Homo sapiens: one gene and its partner. The protein of the gene in region 2 purifies or fractionates together with the protein of the main gene of each other region. This does not show direct contact. Each region holds a gene or a part of one and is shown on either strand. Other genes may lie near its edges. The genes, in order: PLCL2 and MTHFS.

Region 1 (8,430 bases), on a different chromosome or scaffold from region 2:
GAACCTTTGAGGATGCTACTGTTCTCTGTTGAGTCTGCCCAGCAGGGACCTTGGTTACCTGTGACCTTCCCCTATTAGTGTCACTGCTGATCCCAATGCCTCTCTCTCTCTTTTTTCTAATCACCAGAGATATGCCATTTAAATACCCATTAAAGAAAAACCTTCAACACTATAAAATGCCATGAGCTGGCCTTCTATGAACACTTACTAAGTGCTAAGCCATACTAGGCATATTTATTACACATTACTTCCATTTAATCCACACAGCAAGCCATGTTATGGATGAGAAGACTGAGCCTTAGCTATAATCCTTCTCTGTTTGTCTAGCGTCACACAGCTAGTAAGTGAAGGAGTCAAGATTTTACCTGAAAGCTGCTGATGTTAAGGCCCATGCTTTGAGTCACCGTGAGTAATAACAGGCCAATTATAATCATAATAAGAGTCAGGTGGGCTATTTCAGGCACACTTGGGTCCTGGTCTAGGCCGGGCATGCGGGCAGAGGGGGTGGACCTAGGCCCTGCAGGCCTGTGCCTTCTGCTCTCAAATAATGCAGGTTCTTGGGAATGAACACTTTAGTTTTAAATTTAAACATTTCATTTTTATTAATATTGCTTTAAATATGGACATCAAACTATAGATCATTGGCTCAAATCACTTTGATATTGACAGTTACAGAAATCAATCATGACTGTGATATTTAAAGTGCAGTTCCCCAGTCACTCTTATTACACCACTTACTCATACCTGCAGTTGTTCTATTTGTTTATCTGCCTGCCTCCTGTCTGTTTCCCCTTCCCACTGCCTGCCCCCAACTAGCATGCAAGCCCCTTAAAGGCAGGCAGTCAATCTGTTTGTTCACCACTGCATCTTCATGGCCTAGATTGCTTGTGCATGGCAGGTGCTCATTCAGTATCACTACCGACTGCTTTGTCAGGTTCAGTGCAGATGAGGCTTTGGAAAAGACAATGCTTGAGCTCTGACAAATCCTCAAAGGAATTCTGTGTCACACACACCACAGCAGCCACTGGGCAGTGGACAATGCGCTTGCTCAGAGCTGAGGGTTTACCAAACCACTTTCACCCTCAAAAACAGGGAAAAGCCCTTCATATGTCTGTTATGCTTTTACTTTAAGAGAAAGAAAACAAATTTCCTTATTGTGGGAAGGTCTTTTATTCACGAAGTACACATAGAATTAGTTGATAGGGAAAAAACGTTGAATTTTCTCAGTCAGATTTTATTTGTTGGCATCATTCTCATTGGTCATTTTAAAATATAATTTTTAAAATACAAAATAAACAGACATGGAGCACTTATCACACACACACCACTTCTCACACACTATGACAGGTTAGGGCTGCTGTCTGCATGAGGCAGGCCCTTGCTGTCTAGCTCTGTGTCACTCAGGGGTCCTAGCGTATGGCTAGATGTGTGGGCGATCCTTAATTAAATATGTAATTCCTAACTGACTGCTTTTAGCCATTATATATTTCAGAGGTAATTATTATCTTAAACTTCTAATAAATACAGACATCTCTTTTACTTACAGAATTAGCTATCCTCTCAAATCAAAAGGAGGCTCACTATGCATACACATATATTTATGGCTCATTTAAAGGTTTCCCATCTCCTCAGCATTACAGCTTCGTAAGAAAGGACTGGATCACATCCATTTTACTTTGACCTATATCCTTTTTATTTTGATAGATCATCAATTTGTGTTCCAGGTAAGGAATATTCAGAAATCCCAGAGATTCCCATGTATACTATTAGAAAAAAACAAGGAACTGTTCAGCAGTCATTAACAGGGACTGGGATGAAGGTGTGTAACACAGCAACGAGACTCACTTATCCCAATATGTAATCAATATTTTCAACATCAACTGTACCTTTAGGAAGTTAAATGATAAAAAACAGACTAGTGGCAAACATTCTAAGAACTAATCAGAATTTAAAAACTACTTAAATATACTATTATTAAAAAACCAATATATTTATAAACTATGGACATGTACAAAGTAGGAAAACCATTGAGTAAATGATTAAACACAAGCACGCACCTGCATGTTTTCTCTCAGATCTGTGGCATCCCGTATAGGGGGCTGGGCATTCTTGAATACCTCATCCACGGTTTTAATCCACAGTGTTCTCAAAGATGCATATTCCCTGGATTTCTTCCCTTTTCTCACAGAAAGGCCCCTTTTATGAGGCTTTCCTCCTCCTCTTCGGTTAGTAATAGCCACGTGGACAAATAAAGAAGCATGTGCAAGGACCTCTCCAGTTAAGGACTGCAGGGGGACATGGCGGTAGCCCGTCTGTAAACATTCAAAGGGAATTGTGTACTGGCCGATGAATTCATCCCCAATGTAGTCATCATCCAGCACTACAAAGCGCACCATGGCCAGTTCAGGCAGGTTGATTTGAAATTCAAAGCTTTCATCAAAAATGGGAGCGTCTCCATTCTGGTGCACTGTTTTTGTCCTTTGTTCTGCACAATCAGCAGGGATTCCATGGATTTCAACATAGACATAAGGATCTACCACATCACCTTTGGCACCTGATCCTTTGGGCTTGGGAAAGTTCTGCCCACTGATGATTTTAATGTGAAGAAGTTGAGGTGAGACCCCTGGGACAGAGTCTTTTGTATTGGCGCTGAAGAAGGAGACCTCCTCCCTCATGATGGCTGGCCGGAGGACATAGCCACAGTTTCCGTTCTGCCTAAACCAGCCAATATTCAGGTCCATCATCAGTCCTGGTGTCTGAAAGTTCATGGCTACAATTTGGCAACCACATTTCCAAAAATCTTGAGGATTCATGTTACTGGAATCAATTCTCATTGGACTGGGAAAAACCCTAGCAAGAAAACGTTTGTTGTAATTTACAAAGTCCCCTGGATTTTCATTGGCGTACTTGCTGGCAAGCACTTCATTAAAGGAACAGACTTCCCAGTACTTCTGAACCTGAAACGACACCTGAAATTCTTTGAACTGAACTGATTTGCAGATGCTGACCAGTTCAGACAGTTCTTTACAAAGCTGAAATCGCTTCACAGGCACATTATTGGGTTGCTCCATGTTCTCTTTTCCCATCCTCTGAGACATTTCTGCTCCTTCATCTTCGTCAGTAACATCTCCTTCTACCCCAGAGCAATTTGAGGACAGCTTCTTTGCTTTAATTAGTATTTTCCCTTTCAGGACATCTGGGGATGGTAGATAAGATTCCTCAACATTGGGTGATGTTGTATAGAGCTTGTCTCCTAAAAGTTTCTTCATGTGCTGAACCATTACCTTCTGTTGTTTAATGGAACAGTGGTTTTCTAAACACAAGATAAGAGGATACTCTGAAGCAAAGAATGCATACTTGTTAATAATATCAATGACACTGCGGAAAACTATCTGAGAGGTCATGGTGTGGCCTGTGTAAATTACAGGTTCATTGTCCGGCCCATCCCATACATCTAATTCAACACTCCGGCAACCCATTTTAAGAGCTCGAATATATCCTGTGATGTCGGAGGGACCTCGGAACTGATCCTCTATTAAGTATGTATTATGAGATGAGTTTATAAAGTAATGAGACAGAGGTTGCTTCATATCCTGACAGACCTTCTTATGTTCTGGATCGAATATATAACAGTCAGGTGACATAAGGTAATTAGTGAACCCGTCTATGGAGAGCCAGCCCTTTTCCTGACCCTCTTTGGATGGTTCATATTTGTGAATAATTTCAAGGCTTATTTCCTCATTTATATGTGCCACACCCTGTTCTGCCTCAAGAAACATCATAAGGTCCTTGGTATCAAGGAATTCTTTATTGCTTGAAAACTGAACTAAAAGGAAATAAATTTCAGGTCTAGTACAAAGCTCATGAAAAACCTCAATAAATTCTTCCTTTGTGACCTCGGTACCAGCTTTGTCCTTTGATTTATGCAATTCTTTGAACTTAAGCTCAATTTTGCTCGTTTTTAAACCAGGATTGAGGTTTCTGATACATTGCACAGCATTACACAGAGTTATATGTCCAAGGTTATCTACATCAATTTCACTAAACATTTGTGAAACCCAAGAAGTCCTCATGTTATCTTGGCTACTTTCTAACATATCAAGTGTATGTTTTCCATAAGAAATTAGGTACCGCAGTCCTGTAACCCAGATGTTTGCAACATCTGCGGAGTTGGCAACCAAATCCAGTGACTCATAATTCTCTCCATATATGACGGAAAACGCACAATCTTCAGATATCTGGTCAGAAATGCCATTGCTGCGGAATATGTCTGTGTTTTTTCCTGTTCTCACTTCCTTGATGGATTTAATGTCAATCTTGGCTTTCTCAGAATCCTTCTTAGATGGCTCCCACCTTAGGCTCTGCATGTCAGCATCCAGTAAAAAGTACCTATGATAAATTCTAGAGTTGGAGCGAACCTTTTTGAGTTCTGAACCCTCAACCATTGAATTAATACAATCACTTGCACTGCTGATCTTCTTCTCTGTTGGCATGCTGCTGAATGAGACTGTCTTTTTCCGTTCCCTCTTCTGTTTTGTACCATCCTGAGAGGAAAAAAAGACCGTATATTAGAATAACATAAATATAGGTTTCTATGTTCAAGATTATGAATAGAAATTTAATTTCCTAGAAAAAAATCATACTATTAAGATTTCCTATTCTAGATTCCTGTGATGAATGATACTCATTCATCTCTAAAGCTCAGAATTGGCCTTGCAGTTGACAGCCTAATACCAACAGGTATGAAATCATTATTGAATAATTGCAATTCATATTTATCAAGAAGAACAATTTCAGGCCAGGGACGGAGGTTCACACCTATAAACTCAGCACTTTGGGAGGCTAAGGCAGGAGGATTGCTTGAGGTGAGGAGTTTGAGACCAACCTGGGTAATACAGTGAGATCCCATCTCTACAAAAAAAAATTTTTTTTGGCCGGGCATGGTGGCTCATGCCTGTAATCCCAGCACTTTGGGAGGCCAAGAAGGGGCAGATCACCCAAGGTCAGAAGTTTGAGACCAGCCTGGCCAACGTGCTGAAACCCTGTCTCTACTAAAAATACAAAAATTAGCCGGGCATGGTGGCGGGTGCCTGTAATCCCACCTACTCGGGAGGCTGAGGCAGGAGAATCGTTTGAATCCGTGAGGCAAAGGTTGCAGTGAGCTGAGATTGTGTCACTGCACTCCAGCCTGGGCAACAGAGTGAGAATCCGTCTCAAAAAAAAAAAAAATTAATTAGCCAGATATGGTGGCTCATGCCTGTAGTCCTAGCTATTCAGGGGGCTGAGATGGGAAGATTGCTTGAGCCCAGGAGATTGAGGCTGCAATGAGCTATGATCTTGCCACAGCACTCCAATGTGGACAACAGAACAAGATCCTGTCTCAAAAAATAGAAAGAAAGAAACAATTTTCAGAGCCCAGAGAAAAGTGAAAATGCAGGATTCCCTGATTAAAAATTATTAAGAATTTCAAGGTGACAGAGGAGCTAAGTGAAGCCCAGGGCTCTTCTGAGTCAGTGTGAAGCCTGTGCAACTGTACAGGTCATACACCATGAAACAGGCCCTGTTTCTACGTACGCCTCCTACACCAATACTTCTCAAAGGCTTGTCACCAGACCACCTGCCTCAGAATCATCTGGGTTACCTGGTTACAATGCAGATTGCTAGGCCCATGGAACCAGCTCCCTGGGGCTGGTGCCCAGGAATTTACATCAAGGTAGCACTCCATGTGACGGAGGATGTACACTAAAGTTTAAAAACCATTTCCTGACTACTTGGGCTAAGACGTCTAGACTATTTCTGGAAACTATTTGCACCAAATGATGAGAAACAGCTAAGTAGAAACCAATTAAGTAACTGTTAAATGGGAATTCCAGCAGAAATTCCTCTCTCCAAAGTCTCATACTAGATCAGTCATCAGTATACATCAGATAGACATGTAAGTCTGAGATGAAGGGCTAGATTATAGCTGTTGGAGCTCCTAAAATCGTAGAGTTGGATTTATTAAAACCTATTACTATGCCCCAATGCTCAGAACAATGTCACCTTGTACCTTAATATTAATAGATTATTAAAAGGACTAAGTTTAAAACTTCAGGCAGCACTTATTTCTAAAGAAGTTAGCATCACCAGTAAGGCACTGTTCAACTTTCCTGCTTAAGGTAACATGTTCTCATCTTAAGGGGCTGACATCCACATCTGTGTGTGTATTTAAGTCCTTCCTTGTATGGAGACCTTTATTATTTGAAAAGAGTGCTCAAATTACCTCAAAAGATCTTTCACAATTTTAAACCTAAAAGATGATACTGCCTTTCAGTATGTGTATAAAATCTATGACAAATTTTCAGTATTCATTGTATTTATAAATAAGAAATAGGGATGGGAGTTGGAATTATATCACTTTCATGACAAAGAAAAGAACATTGTTGAATATTATCCAAAGGCAATTCTAATTTTCCTGCTCTGGATAGAAAATATCTGTATTTTAAAAAGCTATTATGCTATACTCTATCTCTGAAATTTAAAACCACTTTTACTTTCTAACTACCTATACTTCCAAAAGCAATTTGCAGAAGGTAATTAAACTTAAACTTTAAATCATATGGGTATCATTTTCCTCAAAGTTTCAAAATGAACCATAGAAGCTTTTGTGATCTGGGTGCCAAGACAAAACATAAAAGCCACAAGGTAGAATATTTCTTTACAATTATATCCTCAGAACAATAAAGTGCAAAATACATAAAAACTGTGGTAATTGTATCTGTAAGATACATTATATTAAAGCCATTTCAAATCCCTAAAGCATAGATTGTATTACATCAATTTGAGTGAGTTAGCATGAAATTAGTTTTGTAATCAGCCATGCATAAGGACATGAAACAAATGTATAATTTTCTATTTTTCAGAATGACGTCTTTAGTTTTTTTTTCCCAGTAGAGACGGGGTTTCACCATGTTAGCCAGGATGGTCTCGATCTCCTGACCTCGTGATCCGTCTGCGTCAGCCTCCCAAAGTGCTAGGATTACAGGTGTGAGCCACCACGCCTGACCGATGTCTTTAGTTTTTAAAAGACGCATTTACCTTTGATAAAGACAACATACTGACTCAGTTAGGGAATTTTATAATCTTTATATATCGTGTCTCAAAGATGACACTAGTAGAACAATTACAAAAATATATGGATGTGGTTTATCCACTGATCCATTAAGAAATATATAGTATTTTCCCAACATTGTAATCTTTTATTCTTTCATTTTTACAGGCTGATTAATATTCTGTTACACTTTCTAATTTGTTATAAATGATACATTTCAGATAAACAGGTTTCTTTTTTATTAAGAGGGAAAAGGCCTAATAGCAAAGTAAGTTAATAACATACACACATGCTCACATACCCATGTATGTGGAACAGGCAGCAGCTTAAACACCACACTGTGGCTTTAAGAACATTGCCATGCTTTTCACAAACCAGCCCAGGCTTTGAATGGAGACTTCTGGTTATCAATTGCAGACACATGAACATGATGACCACCCAACCACGGGCAGATATAATGACATCAAGGACACCCCTTAGCAGAGACTTCCTGTCTCTTCCTCTCCCTCCATCTGCTGTTGCCTAGAACTGTCTCCATAGCACACCAAGGCCTGAATCTGCTTCTCCTTCCTCACTAGCAGATAAAGTGATCAGAAAACACCAATAGAGGAGTATGCTTGTTTAGAGACCAATAAGGAAGAGAACAGATGTGAGCTTGCACTCCTTAATGGGTGGACCAGAATCTCTGGCTGGGAGCAACAAGTGGATGTGAATACAGGAGAAGCTGGCGAAATGGTCTTCCACAGTCAGCAGAAAAGGAAGGGGAGGACAGAAGCACTTGTGTGGGAGGGAAGGAGAACTGGTGTTCAATGGCAGGAGACTGAGCCCCAAATTGCCTAATTCCTGGAATCCTTATCCCACTCTTACTCATTTCAACTTGTCTTTCATTGTTCAGCCTGGCAGTGATCAAATACTTGCCTAAGCTAAGTAGCTGGTCAGAAGCAGAGAGCTGGGATCTATTGTTTATGCTGCCTTGTAATGCAAGTTAGTTTAAACTAAATAATGAAGATTATTCAACCTACATGTGCTATACATATACCTTTTTAACTGGAAGAACATTAAATGCATAATACTCACATGCATTAACCATCTAAAACCAGAGGAAAAAATGCAGGTTTCTGCTGAGACACTTGTGCCTCAAAATACTTTTAAAAAATAGTATAAACTATTTCTCAGAATTGGCTGTTATACTGTGAAGGAGTACTCATCACCCAAAGCTTCTGAGTGGTGAATACAACAGAAGGGAAACTTGGTGCAATTCTGCTACTCTATTAGAACTTAGTAACCTCAAGAGAAAGAATACACAAACAATGTCCGGACTGCAAGAAAACCGGCTTCCA
Region 2 (8,825 bases):
AGAGCGAGACTCCATCTAAAAAAAAATTAAAAAAATAAATACAAGGTATGTATTCAGTGCTTTACATATTTTTGTAAATACTGTTTACTGTAAATACAATTTACTGAAATCTCAAGTTTGGAAATCGGTCACAAATACTGCTCAGTAGACTCATTATAGTTACAGAACAAAGTTTAAATATTACAAAACCTGGCCAGGCGTGGTGGCTCATGCCTGTAATCCCAGCACTTTGGCAGGCCGAGGCAGGTGGATCATGAGGTCAGGAGTTCAACATCAGCCGGGCCAAGATGATGAAACCCTGTCTCTACAAAAAATACAAAAATTAGTCAGGCGTGGCGGCAGGCGCCTGTAATCCCAGCTACTTGGGAGGCTGAGGCACAGAACTCCTTGAACCCGGGAGGCGAAGGTTGCAGTGAGCCAAGATTGCGCCACTGCACTCCAGCCTGGGCAACAAAGCGATACTTTGTCTCAAAAAATGAAAAACTGGCTAGGCGCGGTGGCTCACGCCTGTAATCCCAGTACTTTGGGAGGCCGAGGCAGGCGGATCACGAGGTCAGGAGATCGAGACCATCCTGGCTAACACGGTGAAACCCCATCTCTACTAAAAATACAAAAAATTAGTCGGGCGTGGTGGCGGGCGCCTGTAGTCCCAGCTACTTGTGAAGCTGAGACAGGAGAATGGCATGAACCCGGGAAGCAGAGCTTGCAGTAAGCCGAGATCACGCCACTGCATAACAGCCTGGGCAACAGAGCGAGACTCCCTCTCAAAAAAAAAAAAAAAAGGAAAAAGAAAAAGAAAAATTACAAAACTTGACAACATAAATATAACAATATAAATGTCAGAAACTGACAGAGGGAGTAGAAAACACAGTGAGTAAAGGGGCACTAATTTCCTCATCTTAGGGAATCAAGATATGACATAAACCTGAATTTCTTTACCATTTAAATTACTTCTCTGATAAATTTCTAAGTTATAAAAAGGTACAGTGCCAATAAGAATAAATACGCTTTTCTAAATGAAAGACATCATTTAACACCTTTATTGAGCATTCACTATGGCAAAACACTACACAGTACACTGATGTTTCCAGTGATGATCCATTGGTTAGTCATGAAATCAATAGTGGGCTACAATTTTTAAATGAAATAGAATAGAAAATATTAAAGTTCGAGCCAGGCACAGTGGCTCACGCCTGTAATCCCAGCACTTTGGGAGGCAGAGGCGGGAAGATCACGAGGTCGAGTTCGAGACCACCCTGGCCAACATGGTGAAACCCCGTCTCTACTAAAAATAGAAAAATTAGCTGAGCATGGCGGCACGTGCCTGTAATCCCAGCTACTTGGGAGGCTGAGGCAGGAGAATCGCTTGAACGTGGGAGGCAGAGGTTGCAGTGAGCCGAGATCATGCCACCGCACTCCAGCCTGGGCGACAGAGCAAGACTCTGTCTTGAAAAAAAAAGAAAATATTAAATTTCATTGTATGTGCTTAAGAGCTGTAAAATGTTCCTTGTATGTGTATATTTGTTTGTACAGAGTAAAATGTATTTATTACTGAGGGTCATGGGTCTGCTTTTTAATTTTTCTCTCTCCTCCTTTAATGCCAGCTCTCAGTCGTCATTCTATTGCTGTCAGTGACTCTGTATCTATGTAAACTATTTCCATCTATAGTTTATGAATTCTAATCTTCTACGGAGAAAGACAACGTAGAAGATTAGAAACTGAATTCATCTTTATTTTCCCCATGCCCCTCCAAAATTTGTTCCAATTCCTACCTTCTTTATGCCTAAGGCTAAACACCATTATACCAAGCTCTAAATTTTGGAATCACTGGTGACTCTCCTCCCCTTCCAGTATTCTCTAACCTCTTCCAATCAGTTGCCAAGTCCTGCTGTTTCTCACTTAACAGTCTCCCATTTGCCTCCTTTCCCCTCATCTTCACTGCCCATGCTCTGGTTTGCATATTTTTCATCTTTCACTTGAATTGGCACAACAGCCCCTTACTGGTCTCCATATTTTTTTTCTTTCTTCCTTCCTCAACCCATTATCCAAATGCTGCCATTATACTCTTCCTAAAGGACATAACAAACAATAGGTAAAGCTCTGAATACATCCCTTTACACACTTCTTTAACTCTCACAATCGACCTACAAGAGTGATATTATCCATTTTATAGACAAGGAACCAAAGGTTCTGAGAGATTATGAGACCTGTCCAAGGATATACAGTTAAAAAACAATGGCGCCAGATTCAGCCCAGATCTGTGCAGTTCCAAAGCCCATGCTAAACTGTATCCTGTCATCTCTTGCCTAAATATCCCTACTCACACTCCCCTATCCCATCTTTCCCTTCACCTGAAAGAATTCATCTTGTTCTCCGAAATTCATCTCAAACATTTTCCAATAGAAAGCTTTCCAATTTCCCCTCCCCAAGGCTATGTTTCCACAACATTGGTGTTTACCTTTATCATATATCTGGCTTCAATGCAATTCTTTATTCATGTCTGTTTCCTCTTCTAGGCTCTCTGCTCCTTTAGAGCAACAATCATATCTTTTTCATCTCCACAACCCAGTATATAGCCAAGTGTGCACTACATAGGTGTTCAACATATGTGAATGAATTAGCTAAATTTTAAACAACTAGATAGTAAGGACAAGAGTCTATATCCTTTACATCTACTAAAACACCCAGCAATGCTTCCTCATAATAGCTAAAATAATTCTGTTTGAACGAACGAATTAACATCTGTATAGATTCCCTCATACACACCTACATAGATGAAGAGAGGGGTGAAATGAGCATATATGCTTTACTGCTTTAACCCATAGGCACCTTGAATTTGAGTAAATAACGGATAATAGAATAGTGAAGGGTAATTAAGAAAGCCTGATGGTATAACTAATTCCAAGGAACATCAAGTTTCCAAATATCTGGTGTCTCTGAAGCATGATGCTGGGAAGACAGATCATCAGTTTGACTTACAACAGAATTACAAATACGTACTTATTCAGGGGACATTAAATTTTTCTTCCTCTGGTGTCTAACAAAAATGAGTCCCCAAAAACTCTTTAGAACATGCCTTCACAACAGGATATGACTGCCATTTTATTGATAAGAAAACTGACATTACATAGACTAAAAATACATAGCAGTGCAGTTGGTGAAAGTAATGAAACAGAGGTCTGCTAACCAACAAACACGGACCCTCACTTATTCCTCTCATTTCTCTCTTCTGTTTCCTACGTTCTTGGGAAGCCTGGATATGATAGCCAAGTCTTCCTTTCGTTCACTCAAGAAAAAGCATTTAATGTTGACCAACTCTGAGACAGGAAAAGCCTAGGCCCTGGAGCTACTGAGACACAGCCTTAGCCCTCCATATGCTTAGTGAAGTCCAGTCAACCTCTGAGTTCTGCCCTTTGGCATCTCCACACCTTTTTTGGTGTTCCCTCGTCTAAAGCACCTGCATCTTTCTCTGGCCATTTTACTAATATAACCGGAGTCTTACTCGTAGCTCATTAACTTTAGGCCTCACTGAGGGAACCTGGGCACTCAGGTGTTCACCCATCTCCTCTACCACAACTTTCTGTTCTCACCGTGCTCTCACCACAGCACCGTCATCCCCACGGAGGGTTTTCGAGCACCAAAAGAGCCACCCATGCAAACAAACTCCCCTCCCAGAGATAAATCTGTCAACCCCTGCCGTCCTCTCGCTCTTTAGCCCCACAACTTTCACTACCGGGCCCTCTCCCCGCCATAGTGCCAAGAGCGTCCAGACCACGACTAGGGGGCGTGCGCGCGCCGGGAGGGGAAACGTGCGCGCGCCGGGGGGTGGGGGGGCGCCTAGCCCAGCGCCAGCACGGACCATGCACAGATCAGCAATCGCTGGCCGCCAGGCCTTCGGAGGGTCTGTCCGCCGCGGCTTCCGCTACGGGCGGCCTCGCACCTTCTGGCTCAGTACGCGGGACTGGCGTAGCCGCTCCTCGGCACTCATCGCCCGCAGACGCTGCTTCAGCTCTCCCCGCAGGCTCCGCTTGGCGCTGCTCACCGCTGCCGCCGCCATCTCACGCCCAAGCCGAGTCCAGTCCCGCCCTCGGCGCCCTGGGCGCCCTCGGGTTCGGTCTCCGCCCCTGGCCGCTCCCAGGTGGATCCGCGGCCTAGGGGCGGGTCGGGGCTCGGGGAAGCGCCCCCACCCCGCTTCCGGGACGCGGGCCCGCGGCGCGCCGCGCGCTTACCTCGCCTCTGGCCCTTGGGACCCAGCCCTCGTGCGGTCCCCGTGGTCCGGCTCGCCCTCCCCGGTTAGGGGAGCGGTGGCGAGGCGCCGTCGCTGCCCTGCCGCCTGACCTCCCTGAGCCTGGGCCCTCACCGGGACCGCGGAGGCGGCAGCGCCACTGGCGGGGATGGTAAAGATGGCCGGCAGTACCCACGGTGCCTGGCATCTCTTGTACTGTTCAGTAGTGGGACTTCAGGGGCCAGAAAAGAAGGGCAAGGCAGGACATGTAGCGAAATCGTCACGAGTCGCTTAACTACAGGGATAGGTCTGACAGATGCCCCGATTTCCTTCTTGTGCAAACATCAGAGTGTAGTTACACAAAGTTACTACACACCTATGCTACACACCTGTACAGCGTATTTTGTACCGAATACTGTAGGCAATTGTAAGCACCGTGATACTTGTGTATCTAAACACAGAAAAGGTAATGTGTTGGTTGGCTACCACATCAGTAGGTATTAGGAATTTTTCAGCTCCATTATAATCTTAAGGGACCACAGTGGTTGATGGAAATGTCCTTATGTGATGAATGTATAGATGATACATAATCGGGAACACTGCTAAAGCAATAACTGTAGTGTAAAAGCCAAATTTTGCGGGTTTCTAGTGTGAATGTATTCCAGGTAATAGTGCCCACATAGGTACTTCCTGTTATAACCATCAGTGACTGTTCATTCCCACCACTCAGCTCTGATTAAAACACAAAAATGAATTAAAACTAAAAGCAGTTGGGGGGTGGGTGAGGCACTTGCAGGAAGAGGTAAAAGAAACTGTTAAGTCTTAAACTGCTCCCAGTAGACAGGCGCCTCAGATGGCATAGACGGTTGCCTCTCAGATGTGACTTCCTAAGAAAACCAGAGCTGTCTCTGCCAAAAATACGTCCCTACTGACCGCCCCAGTGTCTTAATCCCCACCGTTAAGAATCACACCTCCTAGGTAAAGCATTAATTAAGTGCCCGGTGAGAATGCACATGGCTTGAGAGGGGAGTTCTGGCTTCTTTATGGAATCTATCAACAGCTTCCAGGGAAAGCTAATGCAAGTCCCAGGGGGACTGTGTTGTAAGAAAAAGGGAAGGCCAGGCAGGTACAGCGTATACATAGTGCAATTAGATTTGCTGACCTAAAAGTTAGAACACGAGGTCTAACAAACTACGTACTTTTCTAATCTGTTCATTTTTACCAAAAAATAAAAATTAAAATTAACACTAGCTCCACGTTGAATCATTTACCAATTTTCTTTGTTCAGAATATCCCAGAGTATCCTGCATATCAGGTTGCCATATCCATCAACCCCAAATGGCAAGCCAGAGAGAGAAGGCTGGGGAGGAGGCATCAATGGAAACTCTTAAGCAGCCAGGGGCACTGGAAACTGCAGAAAGCATGGGAAGGAAGGAGGGAAGAGGGAAGCCGACCTGAGTCTGCTTCTAGCCTGAGTCCGCTTCTCAGTCTAGTCTGCAGTCTAGCCTAGTGACACAGAAAAGGACTTTTGGGGTAATGGCACACCTTAAAAGTCTGCCTGGGGCAGAAAAGACACCGCCTTCCTGGTCATCATCCCATAATTAATTGCCTGGATCCTGTGTTGAGCTTTTACCCTTTGGCTGAATTTCCAGCCAGACTCCAAAACTGAAGACAAAAATGGCATATAGAGAAAAATACATACAATTTATTCATTAAATAGGGACAAAATTTCTGTAACTCTGGAAGGTCAAGTTACATCATCAAAGTTGTTTATTTAAAAGTAGAAGTATGTGTTGGCAATCGTTTTCGTAAGAGTCAGAAAAATTAGGCCGGTTTCACAATATGGAGTGTCCTTTCTGGTCAACAGTATTGCTTCAGGACAGAAGAGCATTTCACAGATCTTTCCTGTAACTTCTAGAAAAGTCATCCAGCCAGATTTAGGCTCAAGCTTCTTTACAAAGCCATTTTCCTATGAGAGAATAAATTTAACATTTTAAAAATCATTGGAGATTAAGTATGCTGGAATAAAAAGCAAAAATATTTTCATTTAAATAATGCAAATAATCTTCTATCCCTCTAAAGGAGCATTGTGTAACAGAAACACAGTGTGGCCTACATCTGTAATTTTAATTTTTGGTAGCCACATTTTAAAAAGTACAAAAATAGGAAAAATTAATTTTTAAGATATATTTAGTGATAATGATTTCTGTATGTAATCAATGTCAAATCACTAATGAGATAGTTTTTTTCATAACAAACCTTCAAAATCTCATGAGTATTTAGTACTTACAGCGTATCTTAATTCAGACTAGCCACATTTTACTACCATAGTGAACAGCAAGCACAGCTCTAGAGGATAAAAAGTCTTTTTGTTCTTGTTCTTGTTTAATTGTCCAACATTGATTTCAATGCACTTATATTTGTAATATGAATTCTATTATACTGTAAACTGCATTGTATTGAAACTCATGAGAACTCACAGTAAATCCAAATTAAACCAATACCTTTGAAGCTATGAAAAGGTTGATGGTTTCTTTTATAATCTACTCTCTTTGTGATCGGACATAGTTTTAAAAATGTAGGATAACCCAATTAACTGGACATTTTATTTAATTTACAATCTATAATCATAGAATCCTCACTGAAAAGTCCCTCTGAGATCATCTAGCCTAATGCTCTCTCTTAACAAATGAGGAAAGTGAGGCCCACAAAAAAAATCAGTTATCTAAGATTAGCCAAACCCTTGGTGCCTGGACCTGGATTAGAATGCAAATACCCTACTTCTTTCCACTCCATACATTTCCAAACAAGTGCCAAAATATTCGAAAATTGTTAAAATAATTTTTTCGAATGTTCATCTAGCAAACATTTGTGGCTGCATCTTACAGGTTCCAGAACCTGGGGTTACAAATGCCTGCAAGTAGCTCAGAGCAAAGTGTAACTAATATTGAAACGTAAACCAAGCATAACCCTTTGATAGTTGGGAGAGATTCGAGAGCTCTGCGGTGCCTTGGAATCATTTTATGAACATCACTGGCAAAGCAGATGAATACCACCAGCCAGGGGGATTTCATTTGAAAGACTTAGAAAGCCATTTTCTGCCTACGTAAGTGTGCGTCGTGCTCTGAGACATGCTGTCATGCCTTGACAGAGGAAGGAAACTGCCCCTCTTCTTCCTCTTTCCCTTCTGCCAGTACATACTCATAGATTACACTCTAGGGAGGTATCCACTTCATTACGCCCCTTCCTAAACACCATATTTCGCAAGTATGATGAGACCCTCTGAAATGACTTTTATTATAACGATAATCATTGTCTATTATCATTGATCAGTTAACATGTCATATACATCAACGTCTAAAGAAAGGACAGTGAACAAAGAAAATATTGATAAATTCAGCCAGATGAAGATTAAAAATTTTTTTAACTATGAAAAACTAAAAAGAACAATAAACTAGGAAAATATTTACATATACCATGAAAGTGTTCATTCAAATGTGAGAGAAAATTCTCAGGCCCTTAATAGTTTAAAAAGGAGAGACCATTAAACAGAGAAATATAAATCATTCACAAGTATATGAGAAAAACATTAATAGCAGTTAAAGAAATGTACATTTTAACAAAGTCTTATTTTTTTTAGACCTATTAAAGTGGCTTTATTTGATGCCTATTAAACCCTCAAAATTATTAATAGTACCACCCACACTGATAAGGTTGCTATGATATTGTTCTATTGATATAATACTTTCGAAAAGAAAATATGTTTTCCAGTATGCTAGAATATCGTAATTATACACACATCTTATGAACCAGTTACTCCACTGTTAGAAATTTATCATGAGGCAGTCTTCTAAAATATTGGAAGGTAGGGGGCACCAGAAAAGCATACCTATGCTTCACTACTGAACCATTATATCTAAAAGGGGAAAACCAGGCTGGGCGAAGTGGCTCAGAACTATAAACCCAGCACTTTGGGAGGCTGAGGTGGGGAGATCACTTGAGGTCAGGAGTTCGAGACCAGCCTGGCCAATGTGGTGAAACTCTGTCTCTACTAAAAATTCAAAAATTAGCTGGGTGTGGTGGTACATGCCTGTAATCCCAGCTACTGAGGAGGCTGAGGCAGGAGAATTGCTTGAACCTGGGAGGTGAAGGTTGCAGTGAGCCAAGATCAAGCCACTGCACTACAGCCTGGATGACAGAGTGAGACTCTGTCTCAAAAAATAAATAAATAAATAAAAGGGGGAAAATCAAAACCAAATTGTCTAACAATTGGGAATTGGTTAAGTAAATTATGATATGGCAAATTAATGAACTATTCTGTAGACATTAGAAATTAATGCCTAATGTTAACATGGAGTATGTGAGACAGTGTTGAAAATATTTGTATGTCACACCAAAAAACTCTTATGTACACCCTAATTATAATTGCATACAATGTCTGCATGTGGATATGTTAGGGTGATGGGAGTGACTTTTCTTCCTTTCAAAAATGTTATTTTCAAATATATTTTCTTTAATGATGCTATTTGTATCTTAAGACCATTATATAAAAATAAATATACAAATAAGGATTCAATATCCTATCAGTAATGCAGTAGTA

What was found.
Region 1: the proteins of MTHFS (region 2) and PLCL2 purify together in Homo sapiens (affinity purification with mass spectrometry; 2 studies listed by BioGRID and IntAct, with this or other methods). This does not show direct contact.

Annotation. Positions count from the first base shown.
Region 1 is NC_000003.12:17,005,788-17,014,217, reverse strand, and holds part of PLCL2 (inactive phospholipase C-like protein 2), read right to left. Parts: intron 4,545-8,430; coding exon 2,058-4,544; intron 1-2,057. UniProt on the Homo sapiens protein: May play an role in the regulation of Ins(1,4,5)P3 around the endoplasmic reticulum.
Region 2 is NC_000015.10:79,892,932-79,901,756, forward strand, and holds the start of MTHFS (5-formyltetrahydrofolate cyclo-ligase), read right to left. Parts: upstream 4,084-8,825; 5' UTR 4,058-4,083; coding exon 3,941-4,057; exon of another isoform or gene 3,860-3,940; intron 1-3,859. UniProt on the Homo sapiens protein: Contributes to tetrahydrofolate metabolism. Helps regulate carbon flow through the folate-dependent one-carbon metabolic network that supplies carbon for the biosynthesis of purines, thymidine and amino acids.